2 separate regions of the Homo sapiens genome follow, and region 2 is linked to region 1. The links come from fine-mapping of genetic effects on gene expression. A gene starts in region 1. The other region holds a variant in brackets. All regions are shown on one strand. Distances are between the middles of the regions.

Region 1 (11,269 bases):
TCTATCTAAAATAATATAATTTATTCTGTGCCTAAATAAATAGATACTAAATAATTTAAATGTTTAAATTTAGTGCCTAAATTGACACTAAATAATTTAAATGTTTAGCTACCTATAAGTTTCCTTTCCTGTAACTGTCAGAACTAGGCAGGGCTTATTACCTTTTTGTTTGAAACACTGCTAATACTTTACATTTTTTTTTACCTCCAGAATTTGAAACTATTGAATCCCTCCAGGCCCAGGGGCTATCGCAGAAGTGTATCATTGTAAGGGCCAGATTTTGAGGGATAAAATTAATTAAGACCCTCCAAATCAAGGACAGACACACAGATGCCTAAACAGCTGAACAATATGCTTGTGTTTTGTACAGCTAATTGCTATAAGTCAAGATTACAGTATCTCAATGCAGAGAATTTATAGATAACTCAACTTTATAATCTTATTTTTTGAGTTTTGGTTTTTGGCTCTTATGTTGCCTAAAAGGGGTTTTAAAGATTACTGAATACCTGCTCACCTCCACTCCCATCTGGCCTAAAACGTTTAATTGGATTTAAGTCTTTGACTCTAAGTTCCTTGGCAATAGGGGTCCCACTGAGAGGCACGATGGACCAGGGGCAAGTAGCCACACCATCCCAGAACTTAAGTTAATAAAAGCTTAGCTATGGATACCACCTCTGCATACCTTGACCAAAAAAGGGGGAATATAAACTAAAAAAAAAAAAAATCCTAAGCCCCCTCAACAGACTGAATGTATCCACCTCTTGGCCAAAGGGAATCCCAAAGAAACCTGACAAACTAGTTCAGGCCATTATGAGAAGTGGAGGGTTGGACATGCCACACTATACCTTCCCCCAATTTGGAGTTTAGGCACAAATGACCAGCATTAACATTAAAATAGAGATCACATAAGACTGACAAGACAGACTCTGTAGCAATAAGATACACACTGTTATGTTTCACTTACTAACAAAGTCTCTCAGAAGCTCAGCAAACATGTGTTAATGCTGCAAAGCTTTCCCAAATTTATTTTATTCTAGAGTTTCCTGTATGAAATCTCTTATGTTAAATAAGTAAGAATTTGGACTAAACAGTTATGCCTTTATAGTTATAGTCTTCTGTTATCTCTTCATACAGGTCCTCATATTTCTGGTCAGGAATATTGTCAGATCTTTTATGGTTTCGGTTGGAATTGTGGGTGGGATCATTTAAAAACCCTATTTTCTAACTGGTTATTGCTGGCATTTGTTTTTTTAAATAAATATTTATTTCATGATTGTATCCAACTATTTTCTAATTCTTTATTAATATACTAATCTTTATAACTGTATCACTTCCTCTCTAATAGCTATAACTCATTTCTATTTCATATTTTATTGCTTAATTAGAACTTTCAAAAACTATATTGCATTTTAATAATGGCAGCAGGCAGCTTTGGTATTTTTTCCCCCAAGAATGGAAATGCCTCTACTATTTCATTGTTAAGTATTATGCTAGTTTGAGATAAATAGAAGTATTCTTTTCCTTGTTTTGAAAAACAAATGGAATTTTATTTTTAAAATTTTAGCATTTACTGAGGTGATTTAAAAAAATATATTGGATTTATTAATATATTACCTACTAGCCAAAGGTATTTGGGCATAGAAACCAGCCTATAAAAGACTCAAAGGAGAAATCCAGGATGAAGATGTAAACTTGTGTGTTGTCAATAAGTCTTCTTTTTTTTTTTTTTTTTGGATGGAGTCTCGTTCTTGTCATCCAGGCTGGAGTGCAATGGTGCAATCTTTGCTCACTGCAACCTCTACCTCCCGGTTCAATCGATTCTCCTGCCTCAGCCTCCAGAGTAGCTGGGATTACAGGCACCCACCACCACACCTGACTAATTTTTCTTTTGTTATTTTTAGTACAGACACAGTTTCACCATGTTGGCCAGGCTGGTCTCGAACTTCTGACCTCAGGTGATCTGCCTGCCTTGGCCTCCCAAAGTGCTGGGATTACAGGTGTGAACTGCCGCACCTGGCCTCCATTTTTCAATCTATAAAACGGAGGTAATGATATTATTTTCAAAGGGTAGTTGTGAGGTTTCAATTTTTTTAAAAAACGTACTTAAAGCCCTACACAAATACTAATTCTTCTTGCTTAAAAAAAAAGTCACCTGAACATTTTCTTTACCATTTTCTTATTACTAAACTTTGTTGTGAAATTCAAATTAAAACATAAAACCAAATTTTCTACATACAGTTTCCTATGAATCCTAAAAGGCTTCAAGAGGTGACTTTGAGAATATAAAGCTCTTTGGAGTTGGCTGTGTTTACCACCTGCCTAAAAACTAATCCAGTGACAAGCAAGATCAAACAATAAGCAGATGAGAAAGTAGAAATAAAAACTACTCTTTTGAAGGCTTTTGCTGTAAATGGGGCAGGGACAGGGGATGCTAGCTGAAGGGGAAAAGTGGGGCCAAAAGAAGCCTGTCATTTGTTGTTTAGATAAAATAAATTCAGCATGTTGGTCTGCTGTTGGGAATGATCCAGTAGAGCAGGGAAAACAGACAGTGTAGGGAAGAGAGGGCCATCACTACAGTGATATCCTTGAGTAGGTGCAAGTAGGTAGGATCTACTCCACAAAGGGAGGAGATAACCTGAGACAAGAATAAGGACAGATCATTCATAGAAACAAGAGGGAAGAGGATGTGCAAGGGTGCAGGTAGATGGGTAGCTCTGTTGGTAGAAACAGGTAGAAGTCCTCTTCTGATTGCTTCTCTTTTTTCTTTGAAAGAAGAGGGTAAGCTCATTACCTGAGAGTGTGATTGAGTGGAGAGGTGGTAGAGGTTTGAGAAGAAAGCAGAAAGGGTGAAAAAATTATCTGAACAGTGAATGTACCCCTATTTGTCACATGTGCGCATATTTCCAGTAATAAATTCCTTTTAAAACACCTTTAATATTGCCCCACTGCCTTCAGGATAAACGTAAATTCATTAGCATCATGCAATCTTCTTGATTTATCTCCTTCATAAACTTTAACCTCATCTCCTAATGCATTCTCATTATGACCTATGTTCCATTTTTATCAATTACTTAGCATATTCCCCAAATGGCTTTATGTTTAATGCTCCTGTGGCAGACTGTATTTTCCAAAGATGACTGCCAATAATATATCCCATCCCATGTGTTGCTCTGTAATGTGACCTTAAAAGCAGTCTACCTCTCCAGTCCCTTGAATCTGTGACTACTATGACCAACAGAATACAGTGGATATACCCCTGTGCCAGTTCTGGGAGTAGCCCTTGACTGGCCTGGCAGTCTCTACTTATGTCTTTTGGAATGCTTGCTCTTGGGATACATCCTCTTGGAACCTAACCACCATGCTGTGAGAAGAAAAAGGTACAAGAGGCATTTCTGACAGGCAGCCCTAGCTGAGCTTCCAGTCAAAAGCCAGTGTCAGATGTTAGCCATGTGAATGAGTCATCACGGAATGACCAGCTCACTTGAATCTTCAGTATACCTGATTGCAACCAGAGACCCCAATCAAGAACCATCCAGGTGAACCAACCCAGTTAATCCACAGAATTATAAGAGTTTGTTGTTTTAAGCTCCTAAATTATAGGGTGATTTGCTATGCAGCAAAAGACAAGCAGAAGTGTTTTGAGTGTGATGTGGTAGATGGAAGTTGTATTATCATTTACTGAAGGCATGGTAAATAGATGATCTAGGATCAAGTCATGGCTCTGCCACTACCTGGCTATATTACCTTAGAAGTTATTTGAATTCCTGAATTTCATTCTTCCATATATGGGGATAATAATAACTACCTCACCTGACACAGTCCCTGGCTTTAAAGGAGTAAATGTTTCTGCCCTTCACCTTAGGCCTTACTTTTGGCCCACTAAGGAAAGAACTTTCTCTCCTATCATTCTGACGTTTTCTCTTTATACCCACATACTAGCTCCTTCTTTTGAGAACTGCTACAACTTGTTGAGCCACATTTTACTACTGGGCATAGTTATTGCATGTGTACCTGTGAGCATGCCTTCTGTTTTTCCTGTAACTGGGTACATGAGGACGTTCCAGTTACCCTGCCAACGCAGCTACTTGATAAGTACACTGAGAGCCTGCCCCCAGAGACTGAGGTTATATCTAAGATATAGATATGGAGATAGAGGAAGCTACTTCAGCCTTGGGACAAAGTAGTATTCTGCAACCAAGCTTTAACAAAGCACTGGGTACTTATAGAAAGTGGCATTTTATTTCCCATATGGCCACTATTCCTTTTTGTTCATGGCTCCCCAATTGAGGAAGAGTATAAATGTAGCAGGACGAGCCACAGACAAAACCCCTCAGACACCAAGTTAAAGAAGGTAAGGCTTTATTCGGCCGGGAGCATCAGCAAGACTCACATCTCAAAAAAATGAGCTCCCCGAGTAAGCAATTCCTGTCCCTCTTAAGGGTTTAGAACTCTAAGGGGGTCTGCATGAGAGGGTTGAGATTGATTGAGCAAGCAGGGGGTACGTGACTGGGGGCTCCATGCACCAGTAATTAGAACAGAACAGAACAGGACAGGGATTTTCACAGTGCTTTTCCATACAATGTCTGTAATCTATAGATAACATAACCGATTAGGTTGGGGGTCAATCTTTAACTACCAGGCCCAGGGTGTGGTGCTGGGCTGTCTGCCTGTGGATTTCATTTCTGCCTTTTAGTTTTTATTTCTTCTTTCTCTGGAGGCAGAAATTGGGCATAAGACAATATGAGGGGTGGTCTCCTCCCTTATAAATGCCCACCCTGATAATCCTAATAAAGTCCTCCTGTTCTTTAGCATTCAGTTCAAACAATGCCTGTTCTGGAAAGCCTGTCTTTATTAACTCACCCGAATTCTGTTAGGTTTCCCTTCCCTAAGTTTTCATTTATCCTTACATAGAACTTATATGACTTCTCATATCCATAATCTGATTTGATACTTTCTCCCAATAGTCAATGAACCTCTTTAGAACAGGGAAAACAAAGGTCTTCCATTTAAAGTGTTGACATATGGCAGGGTCATATCTTGCATACATTACAAATTTTAAGGATATATGAGTGTGTAGGTACACAGCATCCTCCACACCAAACACACATTCTTCCAACAACAATAGCTAAAACCTAGATACGGATTTTAAACATATCCCAAACCTAGAAGTTAAGATATAAAGAGTGTAACTTGAGGTGAATAGAAAACTGGTGATATTTATTTAATAAAGAAATAATATATTGATGTCATGTAACAAAGTTTTTGCTAATTAATGAACATTTTGAACTTGAAAGGTAGAAAAATAATTAAATAGTAATAGGTTTGATATTCTGAAGTATCAGTTTTAAAGCCTCTATCATAAACTATCATTAATGTGGCCAAAAAGCAATACTGAAATGTTGGTACTATTATTCAATATATGGAATTTAATGCACCATAGATATCCTGGTAAAATGAACAATAATTATACAGGAGTCACAAATATAAGTATTTACTTATATACCTTCATTGTCAGTATTGAGTTTGGCTTCCAGTTCCGTAATCTTGTGTCTTAGTTCAAATATTGAGAGTTGCACTGCATCCCTGTTATTTAAAATATTTTTGTTGATTATAATTCAATTAAAAATAACATCAGAAAAATAATACATAGTAACCCACTACTACTTCAGGAACAATTTACTATGACACATTATTTACTGAAGGACTGGTTAAGAAATAAGACTCAGGCAAAGGAAGGCTTCCAATTAGTCAGTTCTAGGACTCAAATATGCACTAAAGCTCAAAGACCCCCAGGCAACCATTAGAAATCTTTTATTTATTTTTATTTATTTTTTTGAGACAGAATCTCGCTCTGTCGCCCAGGCTGGAGTGCAGTGGTGCAAACTCGGCTCACTGCAACCTCCGCCTCCCGGGTTCAAGCAATTCTCCTGCCTCAGCCTCCTGAATAGCTGGGATTACAGGCATGCGCCACCAAGCCCTGCTAATTTTTTTGTATTTTTAGAAGAGACAGGGTTTCACCATATTGGCCAGGCTGGTCTCGAACTCCTAACCTTGTGATCCGCCCAGCCTCGGCCTCCCAAAGTGCTGGGATTACAGGCGTGAGCCACCAGGCCCGGCCCTTGGAAATCCTTTATTTTTAACTTAAATATCATCCTAAAGAAGTTAGTTACCTGGTTTTTCAGAACCAAGCAAATTAGGCACTGCACATTATTACAGAAAGGCATACCTAGGGCAATACATAACAGCTGACAAACTGAAACAAAGAGAAAAAAACAAACACTAATTTAAAAGGTTAGCTATTTAGGGCATCAGTAAATAGAACATTATCATATGACAGGGCCATTTATTCAATAAATATTTTTGAGTGCCTATTATGTTCAAGGCATTGTATTAAATACGGAAGAATTCAGTGAACAGTGAACAGAAAAATAGCAATAGCGGCAGCAAAGTTCCACTGGATGCGTATCACAAGCCAATGCTAAGTTCTTTATAGTGCATTTCATTCCAACCTGGGAACAACAGCAGGAGGTATGAGATGACTATTTGTATACCAGTCTTAGAGCTGAGAAAACTGAGGATTAAAGAGGTTAATTAACTTGTCTAAGATTGCATAGTTACTGAGTGACAAGAGATGGAGTTTGTGTTTTTGCAGGACTGTCCTCAAGTACTTGCTCTTATTCTCTACTTCCTCAGAATACACAGAACCTGTCCTCAGAACGCGTGTAGTTTGGTAGCAAAACAAGAAATAGACAGGCAATTAAAATACTGTGACTGGAGCTACAATAGAGGAAAACCCAGAACCCTATCTAGGCACAAAGGAGAGTCCAATTCTCACGGGACTTGTGGATGGAGTTGGGAGTATGTCCAAAAAATACTTTAAATGTTTCAAAAATTTAACACGAAGTACGAATACTGTTTTTAAAAAGCATAAAGGAGGAGTAACAGTTTTACTAAATGTCATTTTATGAAGTTCCCCTTAAAGGGATGAAAGAAAAAAAAAACCCCGTATAACTAAATAAAATCTTTGGAATTTTAAGCAGAAAACCTGGATTTATGGAGACATCAAAACCAAACACAACTTTTGGCATTACAGTATATGGGCAAAATACACGCCATATGATTGGATCCTTAAGGGCAGCACATCCTACCCGGAAAGCTGCCTACTTAACAATACCAAAGGCTTACTCAAAGAGGCACGTGAATCTTTCGCATGGAATACTTTTGGAACCCAGACCGAAGTGCCCAGGGGTTAATCACGGCGCCGGTCTTACAGCACCCTCAGCGGCTTCAGCCCTGAGACTCTGCAGGTGAAGGCTCGGGGGGTGTGGACGGGACCCCACACCGCGCCGCCCGCCGACTCACTTCTTGCGGACTTCTTCCAGCAACTGCTGTTTCAGGCGGTTGGTGCTCACACCGTCGAAGTTGTAGTTTCTCTCTTCCTTCATAGTGTCAGGCCAGAGACCTCCCGCGTCTTTCCCCTCAGCACCTTAGAGCACAAGACATTAAGGGCCACCCAGAAGCCAGTACGGCACGAGGCGGTGAACCCCAACCGCCCCCCGGTCGCACCTCCCGCGCCTGCCCGCAGAGGCACGTGGTGACGTCATAAAGCGATGCCCGCAGGCGGCAGGGGGTGGGGCGAGGGCAGCCGGGGAGACTGGAGAAGCCTACTCTGTGCGGTGGAGCGACCCTGGATAACAGCTCCAGGGACACTCCTTGCTCAAGACGCTGGGGTTAGACGTGCTCCGGCTACACAGCGGAGTGTCAGGGGGCCAAGAATATCCCTCTCCTTTTTCTTCCCTCCTGCTGGCTTTGGTTGCTTTCCTAAACATTGCCCCGGACGGCAAAGTCGGCTTCACTCTTAGCCCTTGTTAGGGAAACGCTGGATCCAAGATTAGCTGCGCCCTTCTTTGCTTCAGTTGAACAAGCACCAGAGTCGCTGATTTGGCAGTGTCGGAGCGGGAGGAACTGGTCTTAAAAAGGTACCTCCTGAACTCGGGAAGACTGCTAACCCTCCAGATTATTGTTTTGCATCTGTGTGCTGTTCATGAACATACCTCAGAGCTGCTCACTGCAACTTGAAATTTCATTATATTTTTAATCACAAAGTTTGCATCCTACCCTTGATACATCTGTGTTTCCTTGACAAAAAGAGACAAACTCTGTAAAATATTTGAAGAGATTTATTCTGAGCCAAATGAGTGACCAATGGCGGGTGACAGCCCTCAGGAGATTCTGAGAACACGTGCCCAAGGTGGTCAGGGTACAGCTTAGTTCTATACATTTTAGGGAGACATGGGACATCAATCAAATGCATGTTAAGATATACACTGGTTCCATCGGGAAAGGCAGGGCAATTGGAAGGGGTGGGGGACGGGGTGGCTTCCAGGTCACAGCTAGATTCAAAGATTTTCTGATTGGCAATTGGTTGAAAAGTTACTGACTAAAGACTTAGGAATGTCTTTAGAGAATAAAGGGGTTGTGGAGACCAAGGTTTTAGTGAGAATGGGATAATTGGTGTGGAAAACACAATTTGGTGTCAGAAGTGTTGTGAATACATAGTTTTCCAATTGAGTTTCTGGATGAGATTAACATTTCAATTGGTAGACTGAGTATAGTACATTGTCTTCCCCAATGTGGGTGGGCCTCAGCCAATCGACCGAAGACAGAATAGAACAAAAAGGCTGACCTCCCAGGAGTAAGAGGGAGCTCCTACAGCCAAACAGCTTGAGCTGGAACACTTTTCCAGCCTTGGGCTCAGACTGGGACTGCACATCAGTTTGCTTGCATCTCCAGCTTGTCAACTGCAGATCCTGAGACTTCTCAGCCTTCATAATTGTACGGGCAAATTCCTTATAATAAATCTTTTATACACACACTCCCTATTGGTTCTGTTTCTGTGAATTACCCTAATATAGGAGGTATGCTTATCAAAATTTTGTCTAGCTGTTAAGTCTGAAAGGGCAACTCACAACCAAGTAAACAGAATAGAATGAAGTGAAAAGGACTAGATTATCTGTTGACAAATCCAAATATACAGAGGATTTCTTTTTTGAGACGGAGTCTCATCTGTCTCCCAGGCTGGAGTGCAGTGGCACAATCTCAGTTTACTGCAAACTCCACTCCTGTGTTAAAGCAATTCTCCTGCCTCAGCCTCCCAAAGTAGCTGGGACTACAGGCACGCACCACCATGCCTGGCTTAATTTTTTTGTGTATTTTTAGTAGAGATGGGGTTTCACCATATTGCTCAGGCTGGTCTTGAACTCCTGACCTCGTGATCCACCCACCTCTGCCTCCCAAAGTGCTGGGATTATAGGCATGAGCCACTGCACCCGACCCAGAGGATTTCTTAAAAAGATCTGTTAGCAGGATCTCACTGTGGGAAATTAGGAGCAAAGGCAAGCAGAAAACAGGTTTGTCAACAACTACAGAAACCACAGATTTGTGTTTCTGGCAGAGATAAAGGACCTGAATTTACCCTCCTGCCTGAAACAACTAAAAAACTAAGAGGAACAAAAAAAGAACATTGAACATCAGGCAATAAGGGAAAACGATCACCAAGAGATGAGACACAAATGAGGCAAGCTCCCAAATTGGCCTGGGCCTGCCAGGGTACAAAGCAGAAAGGGAGAAAACAGGCAGAGGCTGGTGGTTGCCCTAAGTTGAGGAAACGGAGTTTCTCTAAGAGTCTAGAGAGAACAAGGCAGCTAGACTTTGCAGGGCAGATATTGGAGGGGAGAGCTGCACAGGGTGTTCCCAGACCAAACTGAGGGTTGGGTTGCTATTTCTTGTGACCCAGTAAGAACATGTAGATGAACTGGGGAGGAAGAGAGTTTTTATTTCTGGAACCAGTTACAGGCAGAAGCCCTGGAAACTATAACCAGACCAACTCAAAATTACAGTTTTCCAGACCTTCTAAGCTATATGTCTATGTGTAAGTGTGCATTCATCTATAGACATTAAGTGGTTAACTTTTTATAATCTACAACTAAGGTCTTGAGTCCTGAAGACCTTCCTCTGGAGCCTCAGTAAACTTAATCTAAATGGGTCCAGGTGCTAGGGTGATTACCCCTGTCTCCTGCTAAATCAGGGAGGTTTGGGGATTCCTTCAGAACCCCAAAAAACTTGTTTAATCCTAAATGGGTCCAGCTAAGAATTCCTTCTTTTTTTTTTTTTTTTTTTTTGTCATGCTTTGAGACCTAGTTCTTGGTGGGTTTTTATTACATTCCAGCCTTTGTATAAGGGCTTTGGTTTTTTTAGCTTTTAGTATTTAACTTAGCCACTCAAGTCAGTACTGAAACAGTTGTTATGGAGGCCTGTGTTAATGAGACCTGGCCTGCCACAAGGTACACTCTGCAGCAGAATACTGATGAATGCACACACATGGTGGGGCAAGTACTCAGGCTGGGGAAAGAACCATCACAAAGGATTAGAGGGGAAATCCTTACAGTTTACAGAGGTAGGAATAATACCTGCTACCACCCACCAGAATGGAAAACCTCTGAATTCACAGGGCATCAGGTACACAAAGGATTTTGATTTAGGAGTCGGAAAAAACACTAGCCCTAACAAGTTGAAAAGAAAGATCCAAAAGTATCCAACTGGTTCTAAGTAACTTAATCCCCTCCCAAGACAAAACTCGAGAATATTTATAGGAACACAAAACATCCAGTACCCAATAAGGTAAAATTCACAATGTCCAACAATATCTTTAGTCTCGTTATGTTGCCCAGGCTGGTCTCAAACTCCTCGACTCGAGAGATCCACCCAACCTCAGCCTCCCAAAGTGTTGGGATTACAGGTGTGCACCTCTGCACCCAAGGTAACATTATTTTCTTAGGGTATGTTAGAACTCACCTGTAAGTCCATCTGGGGCTGATGTTTCTTTGTGGGAAGATTTTAAACTCCTTATGGAACTTGTTTAATCAGCCAAAATACTCCTAAAGAATTTGGTTGAGGGAATTGAGCCTCTTGCCCTAACAATCAGTAGGGCTTACTAATTTACAATGATGACAGTGTGGGACTGGCACAGGAACAAAAGAAATGACAGATGGAACAAACGTCTGAGCCCAGAAACACTCATACTCTATATATAGAGAAAGACCTGTGGGAAATTACTGAAGAAAAGAACTATTCAATAAATGGGGGTTAAATAACTGATTATCTACGGGGTGGGGGAGGAGGGGAGGAATTAGATACCTTACCTCTTGCACACATATACACAATTCTCAGTAAACACCTAAACATGAGAAGCAAAATTGTCAGCAGTGAC
Region 2 (11,269 bases), 73 kb before region 1:
CACAACAGTGTAAGCACAGTTTATTGGTTTGGGAACTGCCCTGAATCTAGGTTCTGATCCTTCCCAGCTGCTAATTCACTTATTTGATTCTGAGCTCTGCCTGAAAAACATTTCCTGTCCCATTATCCCTGCATCAAAGAGGCTTCCACTTCTGCTGCGTGCATGCCTTCTTTCTGCCTCTCCCTCAGTCCTCCTAACCTGAAAGCACAGTTCTGACACCTGCGTTGTCTGAGGTTTAGCACACCTGCTTACCCCTGAATGTTATACTTGTGCTTGCTTGGGTTTCTCCCACACAACAGGCTGACTCACACTTTTGTTCTGTGGTTAGTCTGAGAAGACAACGAAAAATTTTCAAAGTAGTACTAATTCCATCTGCTAAAGATTTAATATTGATGTCCCCCCAAAATTCATATTTGAAATCTAGCCCCCAGGTAATAGTATTAAGAGGTGGGATCTTTGGAAGGTAATAGGTCATGGGGGAGGAGCCCTCATAAACTGGATTAGTGCCCTTGTAAAAGAAGCCCGCGAGAGATCCCTCACCCCTTCTACCACGTGAGGACACAGTGAGAAGATGCCATCTATGAACCAGGAAGTGGGCCTTCCCCAGATATTGAATCTGCTGCTGCCTTGATCTTGGACTTCACAGCCTCCAGAACTGTGAGAATAAATTTCTGTTGTTTGTAAGCCACCCAGTATGTATTTTGTTATAGCACTTTAAATAGACTAACACTGTCTCACACCTCTGCTCAACAATTATGACTTGATTTTAGCAGCATGGTAAGGCGGAGACTGTTTATTAGATTTCATATCCTAGTATTTAGTATACATACAGAAGGTGATAATAAATACATGTTTTTCCCAATGAGTTTAGAACCACTGCCCTTAGGTAGTAACACAGGTCAAAGAATAGTGCCAACTTCTAATGATGCCCTGCGTTAGATTGCAATAAGACTTGACAGTTTTCTCATCATTCAGTATGTTCACTTTTTAAAACCGGATTTAGTTCTACTAAATCTGCCTCATTTTAATCACAAGTCTTTGCTAGGAAATGTAGAGCTAAACCAAAGTAACACTATAACCATGGAGGAGGGACTGTGTCACACAAAGTCCACAGTGGGCCTGTGCGATCCCACATTGATTCATTTTGAGTGCATCCCCCCATGGTAGTCATTGGTTATAGCTCTATGGTCTGAGGAGATCACAAAGTTACAAATGAACTCTTTTACCTTTAGCCACAGTGACAGCCAACTGCAGCTGTATGAAGTCATGAGGAATTTCTTTAGCACAAAAATGTCAGGCCACCTTCAAGGAGAGAAGCTTCTTGTTTGTAAAGGTGAGGGATAAGCGGGAGTGGAAAAAATGTCATTCACACTTTACTCGTGAATATGTTCATGTATACTAATATGGTTTAAAAGTCAGCTGAGAGGCCTGGTATAGGTGGCTCACACTTGTAATCCAAACACTTTGGGAGTCCGAGCCAGGAGGAATGCTTGAGGCCAGGAGTTCAAGACTAGCCTGGGCAACACGGCAAAATATCATTTCTACCAAAAATTTTAAAAAAAAAAAATTAGGTGTGGTGGCACACACCTGAGAGGCTGAGCCCAGGAATTTGAGGCTGCAGTGAGCTATGATCATGCAACTGCACTCAATCCTGGGAAACAGAGCAAGACCTTGTCTCAAAAAAAAAAAAAAAAGTTATCTGAAGTAATTTTAATTTTTTTATTTTGAAAATTTCATACATACCCGAGTATATTTATTACATATGTATTATTTAAAGTATAATAATATGGATGTGTATGTACCTACCACTCAGCCTAACAGACACTATCAATAATTTTAAAATACCTTATGTGTGTCTCTCATTCACATTTCCCTGTCTCCCCAGATATAAATACTATTTTGTTATTTATTTAGTTTTACTTCTTTTCACTGCTGAAGCCAGAATGGATTGTGATGTGTGAGAGAAAGAAATCTTTGTGTTAAGCCTCTAAAGTCTGAGTTATTTTTTATAGTCATAATAGAGAGATTAATAACTTGAATTTAGGTGCTGCCTAAACAAAATACTAATATGTGTGGCATTAACTTAGCAGGTCTGCAGTGAGAGGCACAGAAAGAAATATGGGAGGTTGGAAGCCTGGGATCCCTGTTATGCCATAGCAGACCAAGTGCTTACTAAGACTGTAGGTCAAAGGAAGGATGTTGGGAAAACAACGAATAATAATGTGTTGATATGGTTTGGCTATGTCCCTACCCAAATCTCATCTTGAATTGTAGTTCCCATAATCCCCACATGTCTGGGAGGGACCTAGTGGGGAGTAAATGAATCATATTGGAGGTTACCCCCATGCTGCTGTTCTCATGATAAGAGTGAGTGAGTTCTCATAAGAACTGACAGTTATATAAGGGGCTTTTCCCACTTTTGCTTGGCACTTTTCTTTCTTGCTGCCATGTGAAGAAGGACGTGTTTGCTTCCCCTTCTGCCATGATTTTAAGTTTTCAGAGGCCTCCCCAGCCATGCTGGAACTGTGAGTCAATTAAACCTCTTTCCTTTATAAATTACCCAGTCTCAGGTATGTCTTTATTAGCAGCATGAGAATGGACTACTAAATGTGTACTAAATGTTACTGGCTGCCTTTGGTAAGAGAGAATAAATTGATGAGCTTGCAATATAGCTAACTAGTTTGTAAGGAGAAATAAAAGGGAATAGAGAGAGTCTAGGAAAGAATCTAGAAATTTGGGGCATTGAAGGGCATTAAAGAGTTGGAAAGGCCAACTATTTCTAGGTCCCAAAAAGAAAGAGATAAGGCTGAGAAAAGTCAAGCCACAAAAGGCCACTAATACTCAGCCTTGTGGCAAGGATCAGATTATGGATAGGTGTTAACTTCACATCACCTTAATCAATTAGTTAAATAACCTGCATGGTAGCTGCCATTAGGCAGAGAGAGGTATGGGCCAAAGAAACAAATCATGCTCTGAAATTATATTATACATAGAACTGGCTACTATTTTGATGGAATTTATATAAACTAGGACTAAAAAGCCTTTGAACTGTAAAATCAGCTTTAGACACCCAATTTTGTTCAAACAGATTATGAGCTCTGAAAGCTATGCATCCCCAATAGAGGGCATAACCTCATCATCCACTTCGAATGTGGGCAAGAAGATGAAAAAGGAAGAAACTCCCACGGACTGGAGCCAGTGGCTACTAAGAAAAAATGGACAAGAACATTCCTCCCAAGAGCAGAGTCAGAGCCCAAGAAAGGAACCGACCCCATTCCCAGTGAAGAGGGCTTTCACCATATCTTCCCAATGGGATTTTATAAATGCTGTGGATGAGTGATGCTGTGCGTTCTTCCTCATCTGAGCAAAGGTTATTATGGGCATCCTTCCATGCTCACACACTGACTGCTACATTCCACAGTTGTTTGGGCCCAGCAAGTATTTGCCTATCAGATTTTACAGTATTTGTACTAAGGCTTGAAAGAACAGCATCCTAGAAAGACATTGATGGAAATGCAAAAAGATTGTTTAGTTAAAAAAAATCATTGTTTTAGTTATGTTCAGCAGACTTGAAAATATACCAAGTTAGAATCAATTTTAAAATACCAATTGAGATTCAAGAACCTGATTCAGTGATGCAGCAGGCCAGGAGCCATCACCATCAATGAATAGCTCAATTTCTCTCTCATGTAGTTGCCAAGAAAGATATTATCTACTGAAGAAAACCTAAATACCTGTAAGTCTTACTAAAAATATTGTTTGATACAAGTGAGCATAGGCTGACTGCTTCAACCAGTAAAACCTAAATCTCAGTGTCTTAATACACACAGAAACATACAAAAGGATTTCCTTTTCTCTCACATAAAAACCAAATGAGGATTAACAAAGTGAGAGGAATGGATGTGCTACATGAAGTGATTCGGGGACCCAATTTTCTTCTACCTTGTGGATCTGCTATCCCTGAGGCCTTGGAATTTGCTTTTAGACCCTCTATATCCACCCATAACACAATTTTTTTTTAAAGAAAAAGCACAAACAAGAAGGATCACCTGGGACGTTTTAATGGGCTAGTCACAGAAACGACATGTATCACTTATGTCTAGGTTATATTGGCCTGAAGTCAGTCGCAGGGTCACACCTAAGTGCACACAGTGTTTCACACGCCTATCTCTAAACACAGTAGCATACATACCACACACTACCAAACAGTGTTTCATGCATATATCACTAAGCAAAGAAGTATGTGTGCATCATCACACACTGGCAAACAAAGTGTTTAACACATACACTTTGTTATGTATGTGTAGCCTAGTTCTGTGTCCCATAGAAAAAGCCTAGTTCTGTGTCCCATAGAAAAAGAAAACAGTTTGGTGAGTGCATAGCAACAGTTTTTGCCACAGTCCATCAATTTGATCACCAAATAAATAGCTTTTGCTCTTTCTTCCCAGAATATACTTACCTCCTTGCCAAGGTAAGACAAAGCCCCATCCAGTCATTTTATCCAGTGCAAATTTCATTGATTAAGGTGAGAAAAATATATTTAGGTGATAACATAAAAAAAAGTTACAGATGCATAGCAAAATGGATTTTTATATTAGATTTTAAAATATTTTCTTTGCTTTTATTTTAATGCTTTATCCTTTACTTCTGGCTTTGAGAGTAACAGGGGAAAGATTTAGCTTCTTACTGTGAAGAAACAGAAAATTAGTCAAAAATATATGAAACAACTGCAGATATTGACATGCACCTTAAGACTATGACCCCTGAGAGGAATGAAGTGAGGCCCATCCATCATTCTAGATTTCTACCTGCAGGCACAGACCTCAGAGCAGGGTAGGGGATCCCAAACAAAGCATGGTGGTTTCATGTAGTTGAGAAGACAGAGGCTGGAGTTCAGGGAGGCTGAAGTGGCTGAAGTTGCAGAGCAGAGTACCAGAGAGCTAACAGATATGTAAAAACAGAATTCCAGAAATCTGCATAGGAGCCCCTTGAGAGGTGGCTGGATATTAAGACATGTAAGCCTAGAGCAAAACTCTACGAGGTCAAGCAGAGTGCCACACAGGCCTGTGAGGCATCTGAGGTCCAACTAGCCAGTGTTGAGTGTCCCAGCTGATCACTCACAGAATTTTCTAGTGATCCCACAATAGCTATGCCTTAGAAATGGTGTTAAACTCTCTGTGGGGTGAAGCTCACTCTATACTTACCCTAACAAAGGCTTGAAAAGAAGAAACTGAACTGCAATTAATTTAACTGCCTATAAGAATAAATCTATAACCAACAATGTGAAATCATCAATGCCTGGCATCTAATATAAAATTAGTAGATATTACAAGAAGCAGAAAATGAAACCCGAAACCAGGAGAAAAATCAGTCACCAGAAACAGACTGAGAAATGAAAAAGATACTGTGTAAGTATGCTAAAAGTCATTATATGCCTATCCAATTACTTAAAGGAAAACATAAATACAGTGACAGAAGATATAAAAAAAGAACCAAAAGGAACAATATCAAGTGGTTTACAACAGGCTGTAATTAAAGTCCCAGGAGGACAGGAAAGGGCAGAAAAATAATACAAAAATGGCCCAAAATTTTCCACATTTGATGAAAACTACAGATATAAGCTCATTGAACACCATGCAATATAAACACAAAACCACCCTAATAAAACTGATTTTGTTAGTTATTAGCTAATGGCAAAACGTTTTTGAAAGCTCATATTTATAGTCTATATGTATACAACCTATATGGTATAATCAACATATATTTTATGGAGTTATTTTTGTCTCATGTTTTGTTGTGTGATAAATGAGCAGGGAATTACAGAATGTTAGTATCAGAAGGCACACTGACAGCAATCAAATACACACCTCCACCACTGCAGGAATCCTTCGTATACTATTCCTGAGGAATGGTCACCTAATCTCTGCTTAAGCAATTTCAACGATGATAAACTTAC[G/A]ACTGGGTAGTTCTCCAGATAGTAATATTTTCTGTATTTCTGTAGCTGAGTTGGCAAATTGCTTTAATAAAGTTAAATGAACTCTACAAATTCAAGATTTTTCTAATTCATAGTCAGATTAATTGAATGTTAACCTGTAAAAATAATGCCCTACTGTCAAATATATGATATGAGCTCATATTTATGTAGTGCTTTATTATCTTAAAGGTACTTTTTCATAATTCAATTATATGTAGTGATTTCAATACCAGTTTTCAATATTCTGGTATACTCTGCCCTTTTTAAATACCAAAATCCCAGCACTGTTGTTACAGTTTGGTTATTCTGATATTTAAAATCAACAATCTAAATTTTTTAAATATTAAATTAGTATCTATAACTCAATTACCTAATTTATGAACAAAATTAATACAATGTACATAGTATAGAAGTCTAGACAGGTCCTCACCTGTGCACACAGCAAAAAGCAATCAAATAGTGTTACTGATAAGCTTCTGTTGCAAGAATAATTCTTAGTTCCAAATAAGTAATTTCTTATCCAGTAGAATATGAAAATAATAGTACTAAAATTGATATAGGTAACTCTGCTTTGGAATCTCCTATACATGCTAAAACTAATTCAGATGAAGAAAAGGTAGGAATAATTTATTTGAAATCAATACTATATAGCTCTTTATAAATTTTTTAAAAATCCAGCCCCAGTCAAAAATCAAAAGGTGTTTTATAAATATCTCCACAAGGTCATTAAGTAAAAAAATTGGATTATTTAAATTTAAATAAGTCAAAGGAAAATATTGGGAATTAGCATGTAATGCTCTCATCATTATTGTTTTGACATCTTGGTTGGAAAATTCTCCCCAAAATAGCTATTTTCTATTCAACATAGTACTGGAAGTGCTAGCCAGAGCAATCAGACAAGAGAAAGAAAAAAAAAAGGCATCTACATATGAAAAGAATTCAAACTATCTCTCTTCAAGGATAATATGACCCTATACATAGAAAACCCTACAGACTCTGCCAAAAGGGTCCTGGAATTGATAAACAACTTCGGTAAAGTTTCAGGATACAAAATCAATGTACAAAAAATCAATAACATTTCTATACACCAACAACATTCAAGCTAAGAGCCAAATCGAGAATGCAATCCAATCTACAATAGCCACATACACAAAGACATACACAAAAACCCCTAGGAATATATCTAACCAAGGAGGTGAAAGATCTCTATAAGGAGAACTATAAAACACCACCAAAAGAAATCAGACAACATAAACAAATGGTAAAACATTCCATATTCATGGGGTGGAAGAATCAATATTGTTAAAATAGTCATACTGCCCAAAGCAATCTACAGATTCAATGCTATTCCTATCAAACTACTAACATCATTTTTCACAGAACTAGAAAAACTATTCTAAAATTCATGTGGAAGTAAAAAGGAGCCCGAATAGCCAGAGCAATCTTAATCAAAAAGGAAAAAGCCAGTGGCAACACATTACCAGACTTCAAACTATACTGTAAAGCTACAGTAATCAAAACAGCATGGTACTGGCACAAAAACAGACACAGAGACCAATGGAACAGAATAAAGAACCCAGGAAAAAAAAGCCACATACCTACAGCCATCTGATCTTCAACAGTCAACAAAAATAGGCAATAAGGAAAGGACTCCCTATTCAACAAATGGTGCTGGAATAGCTGGCTAGCCATATACAGAAGGATGAAACTGGACCCCTACCTTTCACCATATGCAAAAATTACCTCAAGATGAATTAAAGATTTAAATGTAAGCCCTCAAACTATAAGAATCCTAGAAGAAACCTAGGAAACACTTTTTTTTTTTTTGAGACAGGGTTTCATTCAGTTGCCTAGCCTTAAGTGTAGTGGCATGATCACAGCTCACTGCAGCCTTGACTTGCCAGGCTCAAGTGATCCTCCCACCTCAGCCTCCCAAGCAGCTGAGACCATAGGCATGCACCACCATGCCTGGCTAATTTTTTACTTTTTGTAGAGATGGCAGTCTCACTATGTTGCCCAGGCTGGTCTCAAACTCCTGGGCTCAAGCAATCCTCATGCCTTGGCCTTCCAAAGTGTTGGGATTACAGGCATGAACTACTAGGCCTGGCCCCTGGAAACACCATTCTGGATGTCGGCCTTGCAAAAGAATTTATGAGTAAGTCGCAAAAGCAATTGCAACCAAAACAAAAACTGACAAATGGGACCTAATTAAAGAGCTTATGCACAGCAAAAGAAACTAGCGATGGAGTAAACAGAAAACCTACAGAATGGGAGAAAATATCCATGAACTATGCATCTGACAAAGGTCTAATATCCAGAAACTGTAAGAAACTGAAACAACTCAGCAAGCAAAAAATAACCCCATTAAAAAAAATGGGCAAAAGACACGAACAGACACTTATCAAAAGAAGACATACAAGTGGCCAACAAACATGAAAAAAATGCTCTACATCACTAATCATCAGAGAAATGCAAATCAAAACCACCATAAGATGCCATCTAACACCAGTCTGAATGGCTATTATTGAAAAGTAAAAAAGCAACAGATGCTGGTGAGACTGTGGAGAAAAGGGAACACTTAGACACTGTTGGTGGGAATGTGAATTAGTTCAGCCACTGTGGAAAGCAGTCTGAAGATTTCTTAAAGAACTTAAAACTACCATTTGACCCAGCAATCTTATTACTGGGTATATATCCAAAAAAACACAAATCTTTCTACTAAAAAGACAGATGCACTTGCATGTTCATCGCAGCACTATTCACAATAGTAAAGATACAGAATCAGCCTAGGTGCCCATCAACAGTGGACTGAGTAAAGAAAATGTGCTACATATACACCAGCAGTTCCCAACCCTTTTGACACCAAGGGCTGGTTTCATGGAAAACAATTTTTCCACGGACTGTATTTTGGGGAGGGGATGGTTTTGGGATGAAACTGTTTCAGATTAATCATTAGTTAAATTCTCATCTGGCATTAGAGTCTCATAAGGAGTATGCAACCTAGATCCTCCACATGCACAATTCACAAGAGTTCGTGCTCCTATGAGGATTTAATGCTGCTGCTGATCTGACAGGAGGTGGAGTTCAGGTGGTAATGCTTGCTCACCTGCAGCTCACCTCCTGCTGGGCAGCCCAATTCCTAACAGGCCATGGATGGGTAACAGTCCACGGCCAGAGGCTGGGGACTCCTGATACACACCATGGAATACTACACAGTCATAAAAGAAATGAAATCATGTCCTTTGTAACAATATGGATGCAGCTGGAGGCCATTTTCCTATGCAAATTAACACAGAAGCAGGAAACCAAATACTGCATGTTCTCGCTTACAAGTGATAGCCAAACACTGGGTACTCATGGACATAAAGACAGCAACAATAGACACTGGGGACCACTAGAGGGTGGAGGAAGAAAGGAGAGCAAACATTGACAAATAACTTTCGGCTACTATGCTCAGTCCCTGGGTGATGGGATTATTTGTGCCCCAAATCTCAGCATTATACAATATACCACGATAGCAAACCTGCACAGGTACCTCTGAATCTAAAATAAAAATTGAAATAAATAACAACGAAGAAAAAATAAAATCCTTATCTCTCACTGTAAAAAAGTAAAAATAAAAAGACCAAGGTGAAGTCAGCTCGAGGAGAGTTGGAAGAAGTTTCATTCAGTTTGAGAGATGAAGCCACACTAAACCAGCAGAGTGGGTCCCAATCTTTTCTGTACAATTTCCTGGGGGAGGCTTAAAGAAATACATGTGAGATCACAATCCTGGGGGTGGTGCACATGTCTGAGTATTTTACTTTTAGCTCTTCAGGTGAGTCTGACACACAGCCAAGGTTGAGGACCCATGTAAGCAGGCGGGCCAGAGTGCTTTTTGTCCGAGGCATGTCCTATTCTCTGGTCCAGCCACACCTGCAGCACTGAAACCCAATGTCTCCAAGCAGCTGACCTTTAAAGGGTCCAATTCTTCTTTTAAGAGGAGGCTGTTTGAAGAGATGTGAATAGAACATGAATAAGGACAGCGAAGGTACAAATATGCTAATAAAGCAGATATTCCAACCAGTTTATTGTATTTTTACACACACACACACATATACACAAAAATAAATAAATAAATAAAAGCTCTATACCCAGTGATAGCACTAGTGATGATGCACTTTTGTATTTTTAGGATCATATTATTGAGAAAGATCAAATAATATTTCATTAACATTTATCTACTAATATTAAAATGTTAATGTATATTTAACATTTTTACAACAACTTTACTGAGGTATAAATCACAAAACATACAATTAACCCACTTAGAGTATACAATAGTTTTCATTAGTTTCACAGAGTTGTGCAACTGTCACTGCAATCAATTTTAGAACATTTTCATCCCTCCAAAAAAGAATCCTGTACCTATTAGCAGTCATTCTCCATCACCGACCTTCCCCCAACCCTCAGCAACTATTGATCTATTTTCTGTCTCTATGGATTTGCCTATTTGGGACATTTCATATAAATGGAATTATGCAATATATGGTCTTTTGTTATTCCATTATTTCACTTAGGATAATGTTTCCAAGGTTTACCCATGTTGCAGCATATATCAGCATTTCATTCCTTTCTACTGCCAAATAATATCCATTGTTGGAATATACTACATTTTATTTACCCAATCATCAGCTGATGAACATTTGAGTTGTTTCGACTTCTTGACTATTTGAATAATGGTGCCACAAACCTTCCTGTACATGTTTTTACGTGGACATGGGTTTCCATTTTTCTTGGGCATATACCGAAGAGACTTGCTGTGTCATATAGTAACTCTATGTTTAACCTTTTGAGGAACTGACAGTTTTCCAAAGTGGCTGTATCACTTTATATCCCCACCAGCAACATATGAGGGTTCCAGGTTTTTCACACTCATGTCAATACTCATGATCTGTCTTTTTTATTATGGCAATATTTGTTTTTAAAAATGGTATGTCTTGATATTTTGTAATACATTTAGATATCTTAAATTTTTTAATATATATTGTTTTACTGATGGTTTTGCTTTATGAATTCTGAACTTTCCAATGAAAGAAAACAACTACTGAAGTCAATACATATTTGAGTATCAAAGACCCTAAACTGTCATTTTTGCTGTGGTTATTGCAACAAATAATTGGATTTTTTTTTCTTTTTCTTTGAGACAGGGTCTTACTCTGTTGCCCACGCTGGAGTGCAGTGGCTCATTGCAGCCTCAACCTCCTGGCCTGGCTCAAGTGATCCTCCCACCTCAGCCTTCTGAGTACTAGGCTA

Alleles and levels. Alleles are on the strand shown, and positions count from the first base shown. SD is a standard deviation of normalised expression in the study named.
As copies of G replace A in region 2, the expression in fibroblasts of the gene that starts at base 7,540 in region 1 goes up (moderate effect, 0.48 SD a copy in GTEx).

The links. PIP is the estimated chance that this variant, and not a neighbour inherited with it, causes the effect.
Region 2: its variant is fine-mapped to the expression of CCDC169 in fibroblasts (GTEx, PIP 0.96).

Annotation. Positions count from the first base shown.
Region 1 is chr13:36,290,275-36,301,543 of GRCh38, forward strand. CCDC169 (coiled-coil domain containing 169) reads right to left here and starts at 7,540. Exons shown (of 8, transcript NM_001144981.3): 1 at 7,363-7,540; 2 at 5,504-5,583. The coding sequence starts at 7,445. CCDC169-SOHLH2 (CCDC169-SOHLH2 readthrough) reads right to left here and starts at 7,540. Exons shown (of 16, transcript NM_001198910.2): 1 at 7,363-7,540. RefSeq lists enhancers at 7,167-8,128, 8,129-9,091.
Region 2 is chr13:36,217,422-36,228,690 of GRCh38, forward strand. It overlaps CCDC169-SOHLH2 (CCDC169-SOHLH2 readthrough), which reads right to left. Exons shown (of 16, transcript NM_001198910.2): 6 at 9,927-9,960. It also overlaps a transcript of CCDC169 not described here. Among named protein-coding and RNA genes, the nearest start is that of SOHLH2, 8.5 kb to the left of the region's middle. The variant G/A (reference allele first, on the strand shown) is at 5,957.